2 linked regions of the Homo sapiens genome follow. The protein of the gene in region 2 purifies or fractionates together with the protein of the main gene of each other region. This does not show direct contact. Each region holds a gene or a part of one and is shown on either strand. Other genes may lie near its edges.

Region 1 (15,950 bases), 4.4 Mb from region 2:
AACAAATAATGTGTTCAACAAAGGAATTTTCAAATAGGTATATTTTAATAATATTTTAAAAACTCCTAAGTAATTTCAAATAGTTTTTAAAATTGTTCCTCTAAGAATCACCTATCATATAATGCTTAAGTTACTGCTAAACTGTATTCACTTATTACAACACTAATAGCTGTAATATTAACTAGTATTGGAGCACCCCCAAGTGGGAGAATACTCAAAGCTCATTTTATATACAGAAGCAGCAGTAAATTTATTATTTTCTGACACTGTAAATTAAACAAATATATACAGCTAAGCAATAATTTAATCATCCTAAATTTTAGGTAGATTATTTTCATATTAATTAGATTAAATCACAAGCGTTCTTTAACACTAAAAAAATACAGAGATGGATCTTTAAAAGTTTTATTATGGAAAATTCCAAACATACACAAAGTAGAGAGCACTGTATAATGCATCCCCATGTATTCATTACCCAGCTTCATCAATTATCAAATCAAAGCCACTGTCCTCCCACTTTCAATTCACCTTGTGTTATTCTGAAGCAAATCCTAGAGATCTTATCATTTCATCTATAAATATTTCCAGATTTATCTCAAAACAATAAGAACTCTTTATTAGGTATAGCCACAATATTATCACCTCCCCAGAAATAAGTACGCCCCTAACATTACCAAAGATAGGAATGAATTTTTTTTTAAATCAACATAATCATTCTTCTTACATAACTGGGTGATTTTTCTCTCTATGGCTCTATGAATCCTTTCATTAGAAAGAAAATTCTACTCACTCATAAAAATATCTAAAAGGCAAATACCCATGGGTACTAATTACTATAGGGATAAATTCAGTAAGACAAAACTATGAAAATAAGTCCCGAGAGTATGTGGCAAACCAAAAAACATGCAATCACAATCACAGGACAGTTTAAGACTGATAAACAAGTTTGTCCACGTATCAATATTAAGCATACTTCCTGATGTTAGTTACTCCCCCTAAAGTTTTATTAGATTATGGAAAAGGTATTTCAGAAACTAAACATAATATTTATATATCTTTAGAGTCAATAAAAGTTAACATCTAGCAAAAGCACATGTTTAAATGATCACGTTAAAATAACTCGGAGCTGCACAGGAGCAGCAAAATATCATCATAGTACATAGTATCATATCAGTACAGCAGCAGTTGTTATCTCAGTTACTTTGTAGACATTAACCAGTTTTATCATCTATTAAAGAATATATCTACTTTGTGTCAGAATTTGAGCTAGATGTTAGGGTTCATTCATGTGAAAGGATTCAAGAAAAAAATTATTCAACAAAATGAAGGTTCACAAATCAATGAAAAAAGATTCCAGATGCCTACTGTATTCTGTATGTGAGGGTCTGTCACAAGTAGAATTGCTAGGACAAATGAAAACATAATTCTGAAGAGCTATGGGCTATATTAAATAACTAACTGAAATCAGTAGTGGAAAAATAAGGCAGAAATACATTTTTAAAATAAAAATATATTAGCCTTTGCAAAAGAAATCCACGAAGAATGTTTTTTAGTTCATTCCTAGTTTTAATTTCACTTTTGACCTACAAATAAAACCTACATATGAACCCTGTGTAAATGACTAGTGAGAATTTAAATGATTTGCAGTATCAAATAATATATTAATATAAGGGGATGGGTTAACATCGAAACAGTCCCAGAGAACGGTTCCGTCAAATCCAGGGCCCTGCCTTAAAACTACAATAAATACGTTTATAGGCTAGCAAGTAATTACTTTCAGAAAGATTAATTTTAATAGTCTTCTATGAACTCTCACTTTAATTCAATATACCACACTAATCTTAAGGACATTTACAAAATTCTCCTTGCTTTTTGCACTTAGTACCTGAGAGGCCAACAGAGAAGCCGCTGTCTGAATAGTTTCTGATTGAGTTGTACTTGTCTCTGTATCAAGTTGTTCCTGTGAGACAAAGAGGATGGGGAAGGGGGAAAAGAGACTTAAAAAAGAATAAAAGAACATAACTGGGTTTGGTGGCTAATAAAGAAGACAAACTGGAAGACAGGAGGGATCAAGAGAAAGATGTGACTACATTACAAAAACATCTAGTCAGTAGATGTTGTAGGTTATTTCACCATTTCAGATATTAATAAATTTCTATTTGCCTACTTAAATCTTATAAGGCATGGGTCAAACTAGCTCATGACTTTCCAACCAGCTCCAACTTGGGACATTTTAAGCAAACAATAATTAAAAACACACATAGGCACATCATGAAATGTTGCCCAGACAATAACAGAGCATAAACCCAAGGACAGTTCTTAGCTTTGTGGGAGGAAAAAAAAAAAAAAAAACTTATTCAATACTACTAAATAAAATAACCTCACACCTTTAATTAAAAGTAGAAAATATGTCTAAAAAAGATTTCTCCCTCCTTATGGTCTCTTCACCCCTCTCTAGTAATCAGTGCACTGATTCTACTCATCAGAAAACACAGGGTAAAGTATGTCATGCCATCACTCTAAACTTTTTAAAAGCAGTACACAAAAGAAAATAATATCTACACAAATAAATGAAAATAAAAATATAGGCCAGACGTGGTGGCTCACACCTGTAATCCTAGCACTTTGGGAGGCCGAGGTGGGGAGATCATGACATCAGGAGTTCAAGACCAGCCTGGCCAACATGGTGAAACCCCATCTCTACTAAAAATACAAAATTAGCCAGGCATGGTGGCGGGTGCCTGTAATCCCCACTACTCGGGAGGCTGAGGCAGAAGAATTGCTTGAACCTAGGAGGCAGAGGTTGCAGTGAGCCGAGATTGTCCCACTGCACTCCAGCCTGGGCGACAGAGCAAGACTCCATCTCAAAAAAAACCAAAAAAAGGACAAAGAAGAAAAGAAAAATATAAAAACTTCAATTTCAATGAAACTATACCAAAAAAAAAAAAAACGAAATATTGTTTTCTCCTATGAAATTAAAAAAGGTAAATAAGATGTAAGAAGTAGGAATGGAAGACATGCAGCCTTCCTGGAGGACAACTTGGTGATGTATACCAAACTTTAAGATAAAGCATACTATTTTCCTCAATAATTCTTCTTCCATTAATTTATGCTAAGTAAATAAACATGAATGAATGGCAGATATGGTATTTAGCTGTAACCAATATTACAGCAGGAAAGCACAACTTTCTTTTTTAAATGGAAATAATTGCTATGGATAGGAAATTGGTTGGATAAAAATAATCATAGCCTTAAGACAGCATTCTATGAAGCCATTAATAATTTTGTAGATTACATAATGATACACATACTTTTTTCTTGGTTTACAAAGTGAATCAAAATTATAAAGCAAGGGCATTATGAGGGCACACACAAAACCTAAGAGAGTTTTGTTAAAATATCCATCATAGAAATCTGGATAATTTGGGAGAAGGGGGAGAATTTCCAATTTTTCCACAAGGAAAGAAAGTTAAAAGCCTTCAATAGATTTCAATTTCTAGGGAAAAAAAATGAGTCTTTTACATTTTGGGGAAAAAAAAATTTCTTCCACCCCATCTACACCTCATTCAAGCCCCATGTACCCCAGGTTCTAGCCAAAACCTTACGCCAAAAACTGCTTCTATAATCATAACAAATTCTCAACCCAAAGAGACAGATCATGATCTCAGCCCGGACTATCAAAAATCCTATGTATCCTTTGAGGACCACTTCAAATGCTACTTCTTTCTTCAATGAAGACATGTACTGCTATTTCTGCAGTCAGAAATAACATCTTACTTTTCTTGCCCCGTGGCCCCCAGCCCTCAATTACTTTTTCTTTGATAATGTAATTAATTACATTCATGACTTATCTTGTCTACTTAATTATAAGCTCCTTTAAAGGCACAGAATGTGTTTCACTCATCACAATATTCCCTTCAGTGTTCAGCATTACATAATTAACAGTAATAAACAATACTAAAAAAATCTAAAACCTATAGCACAAAAATACAATATTTTAGAGACATTTCTATTACATCTTCTGTACTCTTAATTGTGTATGTATTCTAAAGGCTAAATTAGTATACCTTTGCTTCTGTTTTATCATGTCCACTCAAAGCAAGACAGTTAGCATCTTCACTTGTTTCATCCTGTTTTTAAAAAAAAAAGCTTTATTCTCTAAAATGAAAAATTTAGATTATTTGCCAATCAATGCTTTACTTTATAAACTTTAAAACTATAAAATAATTAAACCTGTAAGATCAACTACAGCCTTAAAATAGATAACTGGTCCCTCTTTTAAAATGTTTTTATCAGATTAAATTTGGCTTCAGTAGCTAATAAAATTAAAAAGAGCATTAGGAAAACTGTTACTGCAGATCACCACCTAAAGTACATTTCCAAAACCACTAAGAGTTCATAGAAATATATTTTGTAAGGAAAAGAAAAAAAAAAAAGAGTTCCTGATCATACAACTTTAGGAACTTGGCATAGTATCACCCCCATTCTGGGAGATTCACACAGAGTGGCACATAAAAGGTTCTAATAAATTCTATCAAGAAAGAACTCCACTTTAATTTTCCCAAGCTTAACCAGAGAATCCTTGCTCTTGGTACGACCTACTAACATCCTACAGAATACAAGACTTGAGAAATGCCTTGCTTGGGTCTTAATAACTATTTTGACACTATTTTCTCAGCAGAATTAAAATTTAATTTTAAATGTGACTTTTAAAACAGGCATAGAAAAACCACAGGCTTATAGCTTAGAAGAGATTTAATACAGTATCGATCAATTCCAATAAGGACTTTATTTGTACCCTGCAAATATGCAAACTTTAAAAATAGTAATGTGTCACAATTGGCCAAATCTGAATACTGACTGATATGTAAAACTATGGATTATTAATATTTGTGTGACAAATATACGGTACTTATATTTTATAGAAGTCCTTATTTTTAGATATACAAAGAAATGTTTTTGGTTGTTATGCCTGGGGTTTGCTTCAAAACAATGGGGAAGGAAGTGATGTGGGTATGTAGATAAAACAAGGCTGGCTGTGAGTTGTTAACTGTTGAAGCTAGGTGATGCAAACATGACAGTTCATTATACTTATGACATGTTTGAAATTTTCCATACAGAAAGTTTTAAATATATACATATATACACATATATATATATACATATATATATGTGTGTGTGTATATATATATATATAGAGAGAGAGAGAGAGAGAGAGAGAGAGAGAGGTTAATTTAGCTATAATCCAGGAAATAGAGCAAACATTTTCGATTTTTATTTTACATTACCATTTATATTTATTTGAAAAACCTTAGGATATGATGACCATTAAGCAGAACTAAACTACCTCAGAGTATCTAAAACTTTCCTATCTATATACACGTTAGTGCATTACTGAGTGAGGCCAGTATTTCTTTCTGCTTTGCTAAAATTTCTAATACCAAGTACTCATTAGCAGAGAATAAAAGACCCAATTAAGAAGGGCTTCAAAATCAGGATTACTTCTACCACAGCAAATTTCTTTTGACTAAAGCACCATGAGATTTAGGCCTGGGTTCTAATCCTGCCTCTAACTGTAACTAGATCCGTAACTGGAAAAGCCACTAAACAGCAAGTTCTTCTGGTAGGAAATGAGATTAGCCCATGGAATAACCTAATACCCCTTATCTTCTTAAAATGCTATAGTTCTATTAATCAACTCCGTAGAAATACTGTAAGCAAAATCCAGACTGAGAAAACATACACCAAAAAAAAAAAAAAAATTACAGGGAAAAGTGGGGGAGGGATGGAGGAGGGAATCTATATTTTAAAGGACACTTAGAGATATCAAACAATTGCAACACAGGGATCTTTTTCTGCTTCCAGATTTAAACAAACAGCCTATTTTTTAAAAAATCAATGAAACAATCAGGGGCCATTTGAGCACTGACTAGATGTTTGATGATATTAATAAATTGTTAATTTTTGTGAGTAGGCTAATTTTACTGTTAATGCTTTCATTCTTAGATATGATTTTTAAGATTCTAATGAAACATGTTTGGATTTTGCTTTTAAGTAATTCAATGGCAAGAGAAAATGAAAAAGGCTGAAAGAATTAAGATTACAAAGATTGGCTGAGAGTTAATTATAACAGAAGCTGTGTGATGGGTACACAGGTACATAAAATGACTCTTTTATATGTATTTTTAATTTTCCATACTTAAGTTTAAAAATTCTATATTCTTATTGCTTTTCTAAACCAGACAAGAAACACAAGTGTTATTCTACCAAGGTAAGTGCAAACAAAATTGCAAAATACTGCACTAGTACAAACTTATTTAGAGCTCTTAGGGTGCCATTTTTAACATAAAGAAAACCAAATGTTAAATGCATAGAATTATGCTTAAATACACTTTACTAATGTCAAAAGAAATTTGAGTTCTGAAATGCCGTGACAACTTCAAACCAGTATCAGTAGTCTGAATGTGTAATTGACACAAAAATTGAGTATATTCTTTAGCTGCTGCACAACCCAATCATGTGGCAGCAGGGCTCTTAATAGGATCTCCAGGCCTAACTTCTAGAAGATCTCTGATTCAGTTTGGAGAAAGCCCTAAAATCTTTATTGAAAAACAACAACAACAAAAAAAACCCCAAAAACTAATTCTGTTGTACAACCAATGATGAAAATCACTGCCCTAAGAGATAATTACACAGACACAGATGAGTTTTCAGAACACATCTTCTAAGTTATGATTATTTACAGTGGGCCCTCCATATCTGTGGAATCCATATCTGCGAATTCAACCAACCATGGATCAAAAATACTTAGAAAAATAAAAAATAATACAACAATAAAAATGACACAAATTAAAAAATACATCATAACAACAATTTAAACAGCATTTACATTGTATTAGGCATCGTAAGTAATCTGGGGGATTTAAAGTACTATACAATACCCGTTTTTCATTCTCATTTACCATCTTAAGAGTGACAAAATTCATCAGATTACTTTTAGTTAATAGCAGCTATTTCCAAAAAAAAAAAAAAGAAAGAAAAAGTCTTCAGAGAATAAGCTAAATAATAAAATAATAAAATAATTTTTCACCATTCTTAATCAAAACATAATAGAATCCATGAGAAATCTAGAGGGGTTTTTTTTCCACTCTAAAGAAATTGTGTTGTAGTAAGTAAATTACTAAATACATTCTTAGCAAAAAAAAAAAACACAATGAAATTGGTGCTTTTAGACTGTCATCTCTGGGGCAATTGCAAATGCCTCACTGATTGGAAAACAACATGAAAGTGACTCGAGGGAGAAATAAAATTGTGTAACAAGACTACCTCTATTTTAAGACTCATACGAAATCAATGTACAGTTTTAATGGTTTTCCCAAAACTAAGACTGTAACAATTATAAACCAGGTAGTATAAAAGGTTAATACCAGCTTGCAAAGCATAGTGGTTCCTGTGACCTCAACACTTTGGGAGACCAAGACAGGAGGATCGCTTGAGCCCAGGAGCTGGAGACAAGCCTGGATAACATAGCAAGACTCTGTCTTTACAAAAAAATCTTTTTTTAAATTAGGCAGGCATGGTGGTGCGCACCTGTAGTCCCAGCTACTTGGGAGGCTGAGGTGGGAGGATTGCTTGAGCCCGGGAGGCAGAGGTTGCAGTGAGCTGAGATTGCTCCACTGCACTCCAACCTGGGCAAAAGAGCCAGCCCCTGTCTCAAAACAAAAAACAAAAAATTAAGCTGGAAATGGTGGCATGCACCTGTGGGTCTAGCTACCTGGGAGGCAGAAGGATCGCCTGTGCCCAGGAGTTAAAAAACAAAAATGCAAATGATGCTAGAAAGTTTCTTTAAGGGTTAGAGAGCTAACCATTTAAGGTTCAAAAACTAATCTGGCTGCATGCACTTATCATTCAGTAAGAAGTCCCTGAGAACCTCTGGTATTTGATGGTCCTATAACACCAAGTACAGTAGAGAAACTCCAAAACTCCTTTTGGATCACAGAAGCAAAAAACTGTCCAAAGGACCATCAAAAAATCAGTACAAATAAAAGGTAGTCATTAGAGAATAATAAGTTAAGAATACATGTAATTTCATGTTAAATTCTGTTGTAGACAATACCTGCTAACTACACACACTAAAGAAGTTTAAATGAGAGGGCATAGCTTTATAGCAGAGGTAGTTACTGAGAAGAATGGGAAAGGTGAAGAGAAACTACAGCACTAAAGCACTACAGACACACCTAAAATTTTCTAAAAGCTTTGTTCCTTGATCCTTCTCTATTTTGGTTCATAAACTTTTCTTCCACTGGATTTAAAAATAGGCAGTTGGTGTTGCCATGGCTAACTAATATGTTTTTCATATATATACCTCTTCTGTTTTGGTTTTCTTGGGACTCTCTTCTTTATGAGGTGAGGATGTCCTCTTGACTCCTACTATAGGAGTAGGTATTTTTGTTGCTGCATTTCCTGAAGTTGCTGCATTTCCTGAAGATCTAGGTGGTGGGTTTACCAGACGTGTTGAAGAAACAACTCTGGAGACCGTAGGCTTTGGTGGTGGAGAAATGGCTGGTTGTGTGGCAGTTTGAGGAATGCTTTCACTCGATGTACCTAAGCAGCAAATATATGAGTATATACAAATTAAAATAACCAAATCAGTATCAAGTTGTAAGTTTTTGTTTCTCTGAATTTGATTTCATGAATAACTTTACATGCAAAAAATAAACTGGCATTTAAAAAACTGAATTTCAACTACTTAACAAACCCACTTTTCAAAATGAAGGCTAAACCAAATATAATGTAAGAATTCTCAAACCTGACAAACCCAATCTCCTTACCCCCTGAGCTTTCACTGGAATTTACTTGTGGCACAGAAACTTCAGTAGCCTGTATGTTGGTCACAGATGCTGCTGTTACAGCTGGAGCAGGACTGTTTCTGCTAAAAAAAAAAAAATTAAAAATTGTCTCAAAATTTAAAAATAGAAAAATAAAAAAAAAATTACAATAATCTATAACATATATAGAAATTATTTTGTAAAGTAAATGATTCTTTGGTTTTACTTCCTATACATACAATTTAGCAACTGACTTTATTGGATAAAGTATAACAACAGTAAATAGTACACAAACCTTCTAAAGCAGCACTGTCTAATGTTACTTCCTGAGATGACAGAATGTTCTATATCTGTGCTACTGGACATGGTAGCCACTATTAAAACATAGCTACTCTGCACTTAAAATATGACTAGTGAGAAACTATTTAATTTTAATTAAATTTAAATTGTCACATATGGCGGCTGGCTACTATATCGCCAGAGTGGTTCTAAAAGATCTATTCTTAGCTAATTTTGGCTAAGAGACTTAACTGAAGGATTTTTTCGAACAAAAATCCTTTAAAAAGTTATTAATAAGAGGCCAGGCATGGTGGCTCACGCCTGTAACCCTAGCACTCTGGGAGGTGAGGTGGAAGGATTGCTTGAGCTCAAGTCTGAAACTAGCCCGGACAACACAGTGAGCCCTCGTCTCTACAAGAAAAAAAAAAAAAAACCTATATTATTAAAAAAAAAAAAAGTTATGAATGAGCAAATGTTCTGAGAAACAGAAAACAGAAATAAACTTCTGTATACAAAGTATAAGAGTTTTATAAAACCCTAAAAGCCCATCCAGTGGCCCAGTTAAAGACCTTTAAGTGACAAGGGGATTATTTCAATATCTTACTTTTAAAATAACTTATTTTAAACCCTCTTTACTCCCCCGAAGTTTCTCTCTCATTTTCTCTTTCTCATGCCAATCTCAAATGACCTTCCTACTTAACAACCAACCAAAAGCCACTAGCCAAGTATTACCCCAAATTCTAAGTATAAATATTAAAGAGACACACCTATTTCTATAATTAACCCCTATTCTTTCCTATACAAAGAAATTATTCCTTATTATATAAAAAAGCCCAATCTATGTTCTAAATCTCACTAACTCCTGTCATCTCAAGAAACTCAAATCATCACACTCCTTTACTCTCCCATCCAATTTTCCTGTCTCAAGTAAATCCTACACATTAGCATTTAAATAAATTCACGGTTTTATTACCTCCTAAAAGAAAAACAAAAGCAGAAAAGTCCTCTGGTTTCTCTCTCTGTCTCTATCTGTGTCTGTGTGTGTGTGTGTCTGTCTCTCTTTCTCTCTCTCTCTCTCAGAGCTATCACCCACACTCTGAAACTGGTGAATGATGACACCATGAGGAGGTAGGCAACACTTCGAAGACTTGTTATTTTTGGTACTTACATGACATCCACAGGGAACCACGGAGCAGTCAACTTATTAAAGCTATGGATATCATTGGTATATGAATGTAAATGTAGTCAACAGAGCAGGTGTTACCACTCAGGGACAATATCAAGAGGGGATAAACAGACAAAAGAATAATGAGAGAGCCCTCAAGGGCACAAATATTAAATGACTAAAAAGAAAAGGATAGTTGGCCAGAGAACAACCACAGATGCTGAAGAAAGCCTGAAATGGCTAGCAAGGTGCCTAGTACATAATAAACACTCACTGCTTGTTGAGCAAATATACAATCGTATTCTAAAAACCCAGAAGTTTTATTTACAGAAGTTACTTAGTATTACTTCAAGAAACTAAACTTCAAAACTAAATTTGTGAAATTATTTAGTACAGTTGTACACATTTTATATTTGTGCACACACTCAAAGGACACAGACTTTCACAGATCCCAAAATTCTTATTAAAATGTTAGTTTCTTCACTTAAAAAAAAACTTTTAAAATGATAACACTTACAGGACATATTCAGGCCTGAAGTCTTTGGATTATGCATGATTTGCCTAAAAACATATACACATGAAGTCCAAAAGAAAGAAAAAAACACATCCACAACACCTCAGCATTTTCTATTTCACACTCATCCAGGGAATCCTCCCCAACCCGCACTTCTGCCATTGGTTAAATTGTAATACAGGCCGGGCGTGGTGGCTCATGCCTGGAATCCTGGCACTTTGGGGAGGCCAGGGTGGGCAGATCACCTGAGGTCAGGAATTCAAGACCAGCCTGGCCAACATGGTGAAACCCCGTCTCCACAAAAATACAGTAATCAGCTGGGCATGATGGCAGGTGACGGTAATCCAAGCTACTCCGGAGGCTGAGGCAGGAGAGTCGCTTGAACCTGGGAGGCGGAAGTCGCAGTGAGCCGAGATCGCGCCATTGTACTCCAGCCTGGGTGACAGAGCGAGACTCAAAATTTTTTTTTTTTTTTTTTTTTAAGACAGGGTCTCACTCTGGTTGCCCAGGCTGGGGTACAGCAGTGGGATCACAGCTCACTGTAGTCTCAACCTTGCAGGTTCAAGCAATCCTCCCACCTCAGCCTCCTGAGTGGCCACGACTACAGGTGCATACCACCACACCTAATTCTTTTACTTTTTTCTAGAGATGGGAGTCTCACTACGTTGCCCAGGCTGGTCTTGAACTCCTGGCCTCAAGTGATCCTACCACCTCAGCCTCCCCAAGTGTTGGGATTACAGGTGTGAGTCACTGCACCTGGCTGAAAATTTTTCACTGCTTCATACCCAGGGCAGTGGCATGCGCCTGTAGTCTCAGCTACTCAGAAGGTTGAAGTAGGAGGATCGCTTAAATCCAGGAACTCAAGGCCAGCCTAAACAACACAGCCAGACCCCATTTCTCAAAATAATAATAAATTTTTAAAATTTTAACTGCTGTAAATGTTAGACAGATATCTAGCTCTTCTAAAACAGGTTTCCCTAACTATCATAGACACATTCCCTGTTACAAAGGTATAAGCAGCTCTGGGACAGAAAGGTGGTTTTGTTCCTTTTGTCTGTTCTCATCAGCACACCATACAGTGCACTGTAGCAGTAGCTATCTAAATACATGAATTTGGAGGGGTTATGTGCTAACATTCATTCACATCTGACTGAAGACATTATCAGTCTCAAAAATAAAATGTTAAGTATGACAAGACAAAACCAAAAAGTACTATCCCCAAACCTGGGAATTAAATTGCTATTTAAAAAAAAATTAGTAGATGGAATGAAAATAACATTCTAAATAGATGACTTTAATAGCAAAAAGAGAATGTATCTGATTGATTTAGCAAACAGCCCCTCCACTTCTATTTCCCTCTTTTTCCTTACCCCTGAGAGCTGCCAGAACTGTTCAATGGACTGGTCTTCGTAGCACTAGTAGGTGAAGGCACAGACATGCTGTTATCACTGTCCATAGACAAGTCGAGGCTGCTGTCATTGAGAGCTGTCAATTTGACACCTTCTGTTGAATGCTGCAAACAATAAAACATTTTATCAAATATATCTTTATTTCATCCAAATGTTGAAACATGGAAACCTTTTACTTAACATATATGATTTTTACTGAAAAGCACAGATCACTAAATCTACGAAAGTTAGATGTGCCATGCTGACTCTAAAAGGCAACGATTTGGGAGTCAAGTACTTTCTTCTAAGAAGGCATCAACATTAAATATAGTTCTTATGTGGGAGAAAAAGGGAGAAAGAAATGCCGTATTAAATGTACATACTGACTGTAAGATACAACACAAATTAAAAACACTATAATATAAAAACACAAGAATCTCAAATCAGAGAACTCTAAAAATATACACACACAAGAAAGAAATGTCTCAACAATAAACATGGGACTACAATGACTCTGGAAAGTGGGACTAGAAGTGATTTTGTTTACATATAGATTTCTAATTATCCTACAATAAATATAAAATTTTTTTAATTTCAAAAAGTGTAACTTATTGCCACTCCTTACTATTTGTCAATAAAAAGAGCCTCTCTCAAAAGCAAGAGACTTCAGTGCTCTAATTGCAATTCAGAATTTTTTAAATGGCATGCTTAATACTGTAAATTATCCTGTGAAAAGAAAAGCAGAAATAACTTTCTGAAAACTAAACATAATATACAAATCCTAATGTTGGTCCTCCTTAAAAATCAAAGCACCCCAAAACAAATAATGCAGAAAAACCAAAAACTATGGATGGTTTCATGGAATTAAAGTTGCTTTCTAGTAACAGAGTTTAAATTTTCGCTATTTGGTACTACTGTAATATTACATTCAGCTTAATTTTTTTTTCCAGAATGTTTAGCCTGTGTTCACTTACCTACAGAAACATTTTAATGAAAATAATTTATACTGTTGACAAAAATACATTCCTTATACATGTGCCTGCATTCTCTGCTTTCTAGTTCCCCAAATAACAAAATATTCTTATCTTTGATTTAGCACTAGACATATCACTTATGTACATGAATGAAAATTGATCAAATGGGGAAGATGAGATTTGGTAGAAAGGAGAGGAAGAGAGAGTAATGCCATTTGCTTATGAAGTCAGTCGTGAAATAGAAGTACCTAATATTATAAATGAGTATCTCTTCTATTCAACAATGCTACCAATCTTACTCTCCACTAGATATGAGGATTTATTCAGTAAGTAAATTATATTCAGTTCTACAGTTACCTGCCTACCTGCCTCACTAAGTGGCCAAACAGCTGTGAGTTAACAGGCCACTGTTGGGGATAAACTGTGAAAGTTTATCTGGTTGGTCTAAACACAAAACAGCATTAAGCTACTTTGCTTTGTTTGCTTCTATATCCAGATCAAGTTTGGTAGCAAGAGACCTCAAAGCCAAATAGTCATAAATATTCTATCATAATTTTTAATAAAATAAAACAAAGAACATACTACAGAAAGAAACACACACACATACTTTGCAGTCAGACCTAGGTCCAATTCACAGCTCATACTACATAACCCAGGGCAAGGTTCTCAACCCCTCAGTTTCTGCTACTAAAGACAATACCCATGGGTTGGTGGAATATTAAATATAAAAAGGACTCGTACAGTGCTTTGCAAAAAGCAGTTAATAAAAGGAAGCTATTTATAAGAGTCCAAACAAAACATTCATAGATCTTGACTCCTAGACACTTGTTATTAAGCAAGAAAGTGCTATTTTACTAATGCAAACTTAGAAATAATCTAAATGATCTCAAATACAGGGTAGATTTAATCATACTGTAGCTATATAAAGAGATATTAAACAACCACTAAAAATGTAATTTGGATAGATGGTCACGATATGTTAACACAAAAAAAGGCAGGTCACAAAATAGCAAGTTTAATCAAAAACCTTTTAAAAATATGTATGTGGTAACAGGCACTGAACAGTCTGTGTATAAATAAAATGTTAAAAGTAGGTTTGCTGTGAAATTATAGTTACTTCATCTGATAGAATTTTTGGACCAAAAAACAAATTTCCAATCATTAATGATTCTCTTTATATTCTAGATGACTATATTTAAAGAAATAATAAAACATCTTATATTCAAATTTACTTAAAATGTACACAAGATGGTTCCAAATATCAATATTGTCATGGAAATACTAAGAGTTTAAAAAGGTAATCTGAATATATGATTCTGAGAAATCTAATTATCTGTTATAAATAGCTGTTTATTAAATAGCTATTTGATTATGAATTAAATATTCATAAGAAATAGCCAAGTTCTAAAGAACATAATCTACTTTCACTTCTGAAAACATAAAACGTTTGTATACTTTTTTAAAAAAATTATTATTTTGTAAGAGACAGGGTCTCGTTCTGTCACTCAGACTGAAGTGCAATGGCATAATCATAAGTTCACTGCAGCCTTGAACTATTGGGCACACATGATCTTCCCACCTCAGCCTCTCAAGTAGCTAGGACTATAAGGCCCAGGCCACCATTCTCAAAAAAATTTTTTTTTAGAGACGGAGTCTTGCTGTGTTGCCCAGGATGGTCTTGAACTCCCAGCCTCAAAGGATCCTCCTACTGCAGCCTCACAAGTCACTGGGATTACAAGCATGAGCCACCATTCCCGGGTCCAAAATGTTTATATTTTCTGTATGTGATAAATTTACATTTAAGTACAATTGATTTAACCTATTAATAATACAACACTAAAGGACAATTAGAAAGCAAGTGTTTAACTTGATATTTTAGTTTTGTTTTCCTGAGGCTAAGCTCTAGCTGAGATACTTTAATTTTAAAATAAAACTGCTTGATGGAAAATTTTACAATAAATATGTGGAAACATGCACTGAACAGTCTGTGTATAAATAGTACATTGAGAATGGTACATTTTTGTCAATTTTTATTTAGTTAACTAAATTTTTAGTAAACCATTAGGTTAAGAAGAAAATTTTTGGCCAGGTGCTGTGGCTCACACCTGTAATCCCAGCACTTTGGAAGGCTGAGGCAGGCGGATCACGAGGCCAGGAGATCGAGACCATCCTGGCTAACACGGTGAAACCCCGTCTCTACTAAAAATACAAAAAATTAGCTGGGTGTGGTGGTGGGCACCTGTAGTCCCAGCTACTCATGAGGCTGAGGCAGGAGAATGGCGTGAACCCAGGAGGCGGAGCTTGCAGTGAGCCGAAATTGTGCCACGGCACTCCAGCCTGGGCAACAGAGTGAGACTCCGTCTCAAAAAAAAAAAAAAAAATTAGAATAACATCATGTTTAAACCTTAAAAACTGATTTTAGACCCCTCCCCATCTATCTACCTATCTCCAAGTTGTGAATAACAATGATGGTGATAACAAAAGCCAATATGAGCATTTATTATGTGCCAGGAGCTAGTCTAAACCACCATTTACATGTATTTATGTATTGGCTCATTTAATCCTCATGAAATACCTAATAAAATAGGTAAAAATATTGCCACAATTTTAGGGATGAGACAAATCAAGAATAAGATGTTTGCCATGTAACTTGCTCAAATTTCACAGGTAGGAAACAGTAGAGCCTGAATTTGAACAAGGCAGTCCACTCCAGAGTCCTTGCCTTTAATTAACTTCAATGCTTTTGTATCATAATATATTGTTTTAAGAAACAAAATATTATAAAATTAAAGTCTTTTGTGT
Region 2 (7,000 bases):
AATTAATAAAATGGTTTGGATTTTTTTTCTCAAGTTCTAAAGTTTTTTAAATATTTAAGTCCTCTTTTCTTGCAAAATTAGTATAATACTGCAAACATCATTGACTTTTTATTTTATCTTATTTTTTTTTTGAAACAGAGTCTTGCTTTGCGCCCAGGCTGGAGTGTAGTGGTACGATCTCGGCTCAGTGCAATCTCTGCCTCCTGGGTTCAAGCAATTCTCCTGCCTCAGCCTCCCAAGTAGCTGGGATTATAGGTGCACACCATCACACCCGGCTAATTTTTGTATTTTTAGTAGAGTTGGAGTTTCACCATGTTGGCCAGGCTGGTCTCGAACTCCTGAACTCAAGTGATCTGCCCACCTCAGCCTCCTAAAGTACTGGGATTGCCAGCGTGAGCCACTGTGCCCAGCCCATAATTGATTTTTTTTTTGATGAATCAGTATCTCATGGTCATTCTGAGAACCAGCTGACAATGTTAAGCATCAAAAGATGTAGAAAGTAAGCTAATGTGATCTGACCACAGAACTTTCACATGGAAAATGTTTCCTCTTCTCAAATTCTTATGTATTCTTGTTCTTTCCAAAAATTAGCATGCAAAAGTTTCTACTGAAATCCATTAGCTTAAGATTTTGCTGAATTTCAACAAGCAAAGCTTATAAGTCAATCAAAACTTTACAAGTTAAAATGTCACTATAGGTTTTTGGCATAAGTAAAATTAAGCCTTTTGCTATAAACTAGTGTAAAAAGGCAGTATTTATCACATCGAAATGGTATTACAGTACAGAAAAGAGAAGTTGATTTAATAAAAACATAGAATTATGAAATGTAACTTACTTCCTCAGGGAATCAATAATATCCATAGAAAAGTGCTCATCCCAGCCACAGTCCAATAAAAATCTAAACTCATCAACTTGGAGAAGATAGCAAAGGGCAGATTCTTCTTGGACCCCAGAAAGGGTAGTTAATTTGATAATAGACGTCATTTTTTTTGGTCCAGAAACAGCAAGCTAGAAGAGTCTTTCAAATGAAATGAAAACATAATTAAACATAAAAGCACAGTCTGGCATATATAATAAACAAATTGATTAAAATTATTTCAAATCTTTAAGTGCATAGAAATTCCATTAACACGAAAAGCAGTTTAAAGGCCCATTTCCATCATTGCCAAGTTTACTTTTTTTTTTTAAGTGAAAGCAAGTTTATTAAGTCACTGCCAAGTTTAAAAGCACAAAGATAATCTTAGACACAATGAGCCCTTTAGTGGCTCCCTAGTGGGGTAGTGAATGTTGCAATCAAATAGACCCATATATGAATCTACTTCTATGTGATTTGAAGCAAGTTAATTAAACTTTCCTCACCTATGTATCTCAGTCTATAAAACATTAGTATTAGTATACATGTAAAAACAATGTTGAAGTATTTCAAATAATGTATAAATTACCTATAACAGATACTACTGCATCCAAGTTCCTCAATAAATAAATGTTTAGGAATTAATGAACTCATCCTTCAAGGTGAATCTCTTCCTCTTTTATCTTGCTTTGTGATGGCACTGATTTCACTGTATTACAATGATTAGTTTACATGTCTTTCTCTCCCATTAATTAGACCAGTGGTCCTTAAATAGATCCCCTTGAGAATCTGATAAAAACCTATGGACCCTCCCCCTCCCCCACCAACTCTCAACACACTCAAACAAAAAACAAGAGTACATATACACGTAGAAATTCACAAACTTTTCAGGGAGTTTAACATTAAGAACCCTTGCATTGGAATGTGAGCAACTGAAAAACATAGGTGGCATATGTTTGCAACTCCCTAAATAGAACCTGATGCACGCTTCAACATATATCTGATGAAATGCAAATTGGGATGCCTACTACATATATTTCAGGAAAATATAACATGAACACATCTACAGGCCAGGCACGGTGGCTCACGCCTGTGATCCCAGCACTTTGGGAAGCCGAGGCAGGAAGACTGCTAGAGTTCAGGAGTTTGAGACCAGCCTAGGCAATGTAGTGAGACCCTGTCTCTACAAAAAAAAAATATAAGAAAACTGGCTGGTGGCATGTACCTGTAGTCCTAGCTACTCAGAAGGCCAAGATGAGAGAATTGCTTGAGCCCAGGAGTCCGAGGTTACTGTGAGCTATGAGTGCGCCACTAGACTGGGCACAGAGTGAGACCCTAGAGTGTACCCTAGACTGGGCAACAAAGTGAGACTTTGTATCTAAAAAATAAATAAAATAAAATATATACATTTTTTAAAAATGGGATTTAGAACCTGGAACTGTGTGCTATTAAGCAGAAGTTATGAAAATATTCATTAGCAAAGTTCAACTCCACAGCAACATTTCAGATTTTAGCTCCCTAAAATAAATGAGCTTTTCCTGGCTAACTATGCAAGTAGGAGAGAAGGCCACCGAGTTACCTAATAATTTCTTACCACTACTCAAGGCCATCAACAAACTAAGGTAAACTGAATATCCACCTTTCATAAGAGGCTGACAGGGGCTGCTAAACCCACCACATCTCCCAGCCTTGTTTATCTGAGTGACAGCCAAAATCACAAGACTGCTAGGTTATCAATTATCAACGATGTGTACGTCTCCCAGTAAGACCTAATCCCCTACCTCTTCTCCCTCTCAAATCCTTTCAGGATGCTCTCTGGAACTGTGATCATACTCACCTGTAACTGCAACTGCTTCTCTGAAAATTCTCTTCACCTGCTTGTCTTCCCAGGTACCTGGCTGTTCCCTCATCATACTCTTCCTCTTACGGCCTTCTCAAGGTTTTTTGTTGTTGTTGTTTTAACTTCTTGTACCCCCTGTACTTGAAAAGCAGGAGGTATGTGTTCCTTGCTCCTCACTGCAGCTTCTAAACCATGTCTTCTCTTTCCTCTTTCAAATAGTCTAGTCCCATTAAAGCTCTTGCCACCCAGCAGTTCACTATTAGTCTTCCACATTTCCTCTTCACTATGGCATCTATTCACCTGGCCTCATTCACTGAGGACTTTTACATGACCCGTTGTTCCTCTCAGTAACTTCAATACTGACCTGTTGGTTCCTTGACTTCCTCAACTCCAATAATCATTTCACTTCAGCCACCCACCACTACGATTACACCCTAGACCTTATCACTACCAGTAACTGTTCTACTTTCAAAATTTCACTTCAAGCATCTCATTCTCTAACACCTTACTTACTCTAGTATTCCCATTGCAAAAATCCTCTGGGGTCAGTGGTATCTCTCTAATTCGCTGACTACTTTTTCCCTATCCATGACCCCCTCCTGTTTTTACTCAGGTCCTCACCTTCAATTCATGATCTGTTAACATTATTTGCAAACACTCAAATGTCTTGCTCCTCTAGGTACTTCTCTCTACTAGGCTGGCAAAACCCCAGTCCTGATTAACTCCAATCATGCAGGGCCGGCGGGGGGATGGGATATGGAGGAGAATTACAGCTGTGCTATTTGCTTTTTTTTGAGACGGAGTCTCACTCTGTTGCCAGGCTGGAGTGCAGTGTCACGATCTTGGCTCACTGCCACCTCCATCTCCCGGGTTCAAGTGATTCTCCTGCCTCAGCCACCTGAGTAGCTGGGACTACAGGCATGCACCACCACGCCCAGCTAATTCTTTTTGGTAGAGACGGAGTTTCACCATGTTGGCCACAATAGTCTCGATCTCTTGACCTCATGATCCACCTGGCCCATTTTTTTTCTTTTTTTTTTGAGACAGAGTTTCACTCTTGTCACCCAGGCTGGTATACAGTGGCAAGATCTCAGCTCACTGCAACCTCCACCTCCTGGGTTCAAGTATTTCTCCTGCCTCAGCCTCCCGAGTAGCTGGGATTACAGGCACCTGCCACCACACCTGGCTAACGCTATTTGCTCTTTAAATTCATGGCCAAAGGCCTCAAACAGGCCGTAAGTATTACCCTTCAATCTGACTTTTCTTAGTAGGTTGACTTTCAGTTTCTGAGACTACTACTCCACACCTCCTCCTCTTTGTTCAAAGATCACCCATCCCTCCCTCCACCCTAGTCTCAGCTGATAATCTCATTTCATTCTTCAATCAGAAAATAAAATTAGACAATAATTTCTCATTTTCCAGATACTACATCTATTAACCTATCTGCATGTACACTGTTGGGTCTCCTGTTGTATAGAATAGTCCTGCTCCCATCCAAGGCCAATCCCTCTATGTGTGCCGTTGATCCCATTCTTATTCACCTTCTGAAAGACTTGACATCTTCAGTCATTCGCTCTTTCCCCTGCATCAACGTATCACTGATGTACCATTCCCACAAGCTTATAAAAATACTCTAGAATTTCCCAACTTATAAGAACCCTCTCTTAACCCTTCAACCCCCAACAACCACTACATCATTTTTGGGTTTCCCTTTCACAGCAAAAGTTCTCAGAATATTTGTCCACAGATATATCTCCACTTCCTCACCTCCCATTTGCACTAAGTCTGAGAAGCCAGAGAAATGTCCATTGGCTTAAGTTGTATAGAGGTTTATCAATGACCTTTATAAAACACTTCCAGTGATATACTTTCATAACAACTCATTATATTTCTCAAATTTTCTTCTCTCTTCACTGTGACCAAAACCTCTAACTTTTATATATATTTTCCCTGTCTCTAATTTATTCTGAGTCATTCTCAGAGGTAGTCATTCTCTGACCACCCTAAAGTCCTTCTTCACATCCATTACAACATCATTCTATTTCCCTCAAAATACTTAGTGCTCTCTAATTGCTACTTATTTATTTACTTGCTTTGTCTGTCACCTTCTCCCCTCCTGTGCCCACACTGGAATGCAGACTCCATGAAGGTAAAGACCTTCTCTGTTTTCATCACAGTTACATTCCAGCGCCTCCACAGTGCCTAATATACAGTGGTAGCCGATAAATGTTTCTTAAAGGAAGGAATGGGGCATGGCTAGTATTAAATAAGCTCACTGTCCTTACCACACCATAAACCAGAACCCATCCACATGTATTTGCCCTTGCTTGGGAGAGCTCTCTGAGTACAGGAGTTGGCTTGATCCATTTTTTTATCCTTAGTACATTAGCACATCCCTGCACATAGTGGTTGTTCAATAAATAACTGTTGGTAAGTTAAAATTTAAAATATATTGACTTGTTTTTGTTTCCTGAAACAGGATCTTGCTCTGGTACCCAGGCTGGAGTGCAGTGGTGCAATCATGGCTCATTTGCAGCTTCAACCTCCTGGGCTCAAGTGATCCTCCCACCTCAGCCTCCTGGGTAGCTGGGACTACGGGCACGCACCACCACACTCGGCTAATTTTTTGTAGAGACAGGGTTTCACTATGTTGCCCAGGCTGGTCTTTAACTCCTGGGCTCAAGTGATCCACCCACCTTGGCCTCCCCAAATGCTGGAATTACAGGTGTGAGACAGCACGCCTGGCCTTCATGTGTTCTTATTTGGGGTACAAAGACATTAATTCTCTATTTGATGAAAAACGTTTATAAATACAATTTTGGAAAGGACCTTGGAAATTATCCCTGTCAAAAAGCTTACTGTACCACAATTATATTAATGGCCTAAGGGAAACTCTTTTCTACTTAAGTCTTCCTTAATTCCCACTTTCTTCATTTAGATTATGAAGTAACATGCAAGGTATCTTGCAGCTAGAACTGAGTAAGTTCATATTAAAACTGTTTTGCAGACAGACCAAGATTTCAACAGATGAAAAGATATTTTCACTACAATTATTCATAATAAAGCTATATCTTTATCAAACATTCACTACTTACTGATATCTTAGTCGTATATATGATGAAACACCAGGAATTCTGAAGAGTTCTTTATTAATCTAAAAAATAAATAAAAGCCTTATGAATGTGGTATTATGATTTCATTCTGTTTATAATTATGGTGTTTAATTTGTATCTTGCCCTAAGGCATCAGGAGCAGCAGCAAGTAGTATAATACGTGGTCCTTTTTTAAAAAAGAGATCTGTCATTAATTTTAGGAATCTTAAGCTTACATAACAGATAATAAAAGACATAAAAATATTTAGGAAGTTTTTTTTTAAGTTGACATTACCTTATGTTATTGAGAATCATAGAAGAGGTGGGATTTAAGATTACTCACTAAGGATTGGTAAGACATGGGTAGAAACAAAGAGAAGGTACTCAAAACAGAGGAGTAACAGGAGTAAAGGAATACCAGACATCTCAGATCTCTACACTTTTGAGTAAGTTTTAAAGTACCAGTGAAAAAACTAGCCTGGAAAACATTCACAAAAGCAAAAAATAAAAGATAAGGCCTAATGAACAGAAAGGGGCCAGATAGTGAAAGGCCTTGGAAACTGTGAACCTAGTCCTGCAGGCAACAGAAACATTTTAAGACTCATTATCAAGTAGAAAGATGGCATGATACAGGTAATTCTGTATTTTGGGGATATTAGCTGGTGTGTATGATTGATGAGATGATACAGAAAGCAGGGAGATAAAAAGCGAAAGTATTTAGTGGACCACCCCTTCCTAACGTTACTGATTCTATCTTGTGACCAAATTTCTTCAGTCTCAAATTGTATTTTATAGCTCTGCGACATGAATATATTAGTTGTTATCTAAGTAACCAAGGTTTGAAATGCTACATGCTGATTCTTCACTTCTGGGACAGTCTATTATTACCAGTTCCTGATTATTCTTCCCTCAGGAACGCTTTGCACATCATTCCCTTTCTATCCCACTGCCAGTACCCTAATACAGGAAGGGCCTCACTACCTTATGTTTGGGTTTCTCAGTTTCTCTGCCTCCAGTATTTCCTCCCTTCATCCAACCTAAACATTGCTACCAGATTCATCTTCAGAAATACCCTGCACCTATTACCCCTTGCTCAGAAATCTCTGAAGGCTTCTTACTGCTTGAGAAAAGACAAACCAAATGCCTTAACTGGCAATGGAGGTTGCCAGGAAGCCACCCTGACATCACTGCTCAATGTCTTCAGGCCCAGCTCAT

Evidence for each region.
Region 1: the proteins of CPSF2 (region 2) and PAPOLA purify together in Homo sapiens (co-immunoprecipitation; 2 studies listed by BioGRID and IntAct, with this or other methods). This does not show direct contact.

The regions. Positions count from the first base shown.
Region 1 is NC_000014.9:96,548,829-96,564,778, reverse strand, and holds part of PAPOLA (poly(A) polymerase alpha), read right to left. Parts: intron 12,300-15,950; coding exon 12,157-12,299; intron 8,933-12,156; coding exon 8,832-8,932; intron 8,605-8,831; coding exon 8,366-8,604; intron 4,131-8,365; coding exon 4,068-4,130; intron 1,961-4,067; coding exon 1,886-1,960; intron 1-1,885. UniProt on the Homo sapiens protein: Polymerase that creates the 3'-poly(A) tail of mRNA's. Also required for the endoribonucleolytic cleavage reaction at some polyadenylation sites.
Region 2 is NC_000014.9:92,124,969-92,131,968, reverse strand, and holds part of CPSF2 (cleavage and polyadenylation specificity factor subunit 2), read right to left. Parts: intron 5,848-7,000; 5' UTR 5,789-5,847; intron 1,019-5,788; 5' UTR 985-1,018; coding exon 836-984; intron 1-835. UniProt on the Homo sapiens protein: Component of the cleavage and polyadenylation specificity factor (CPSF) complex that play a key role in pre-mRNA 3'-end formation, recognizing the AAUAAA signal sequence and interacting with poly(A) polymerase and other factors to bring about cleavage and poly(A) addition.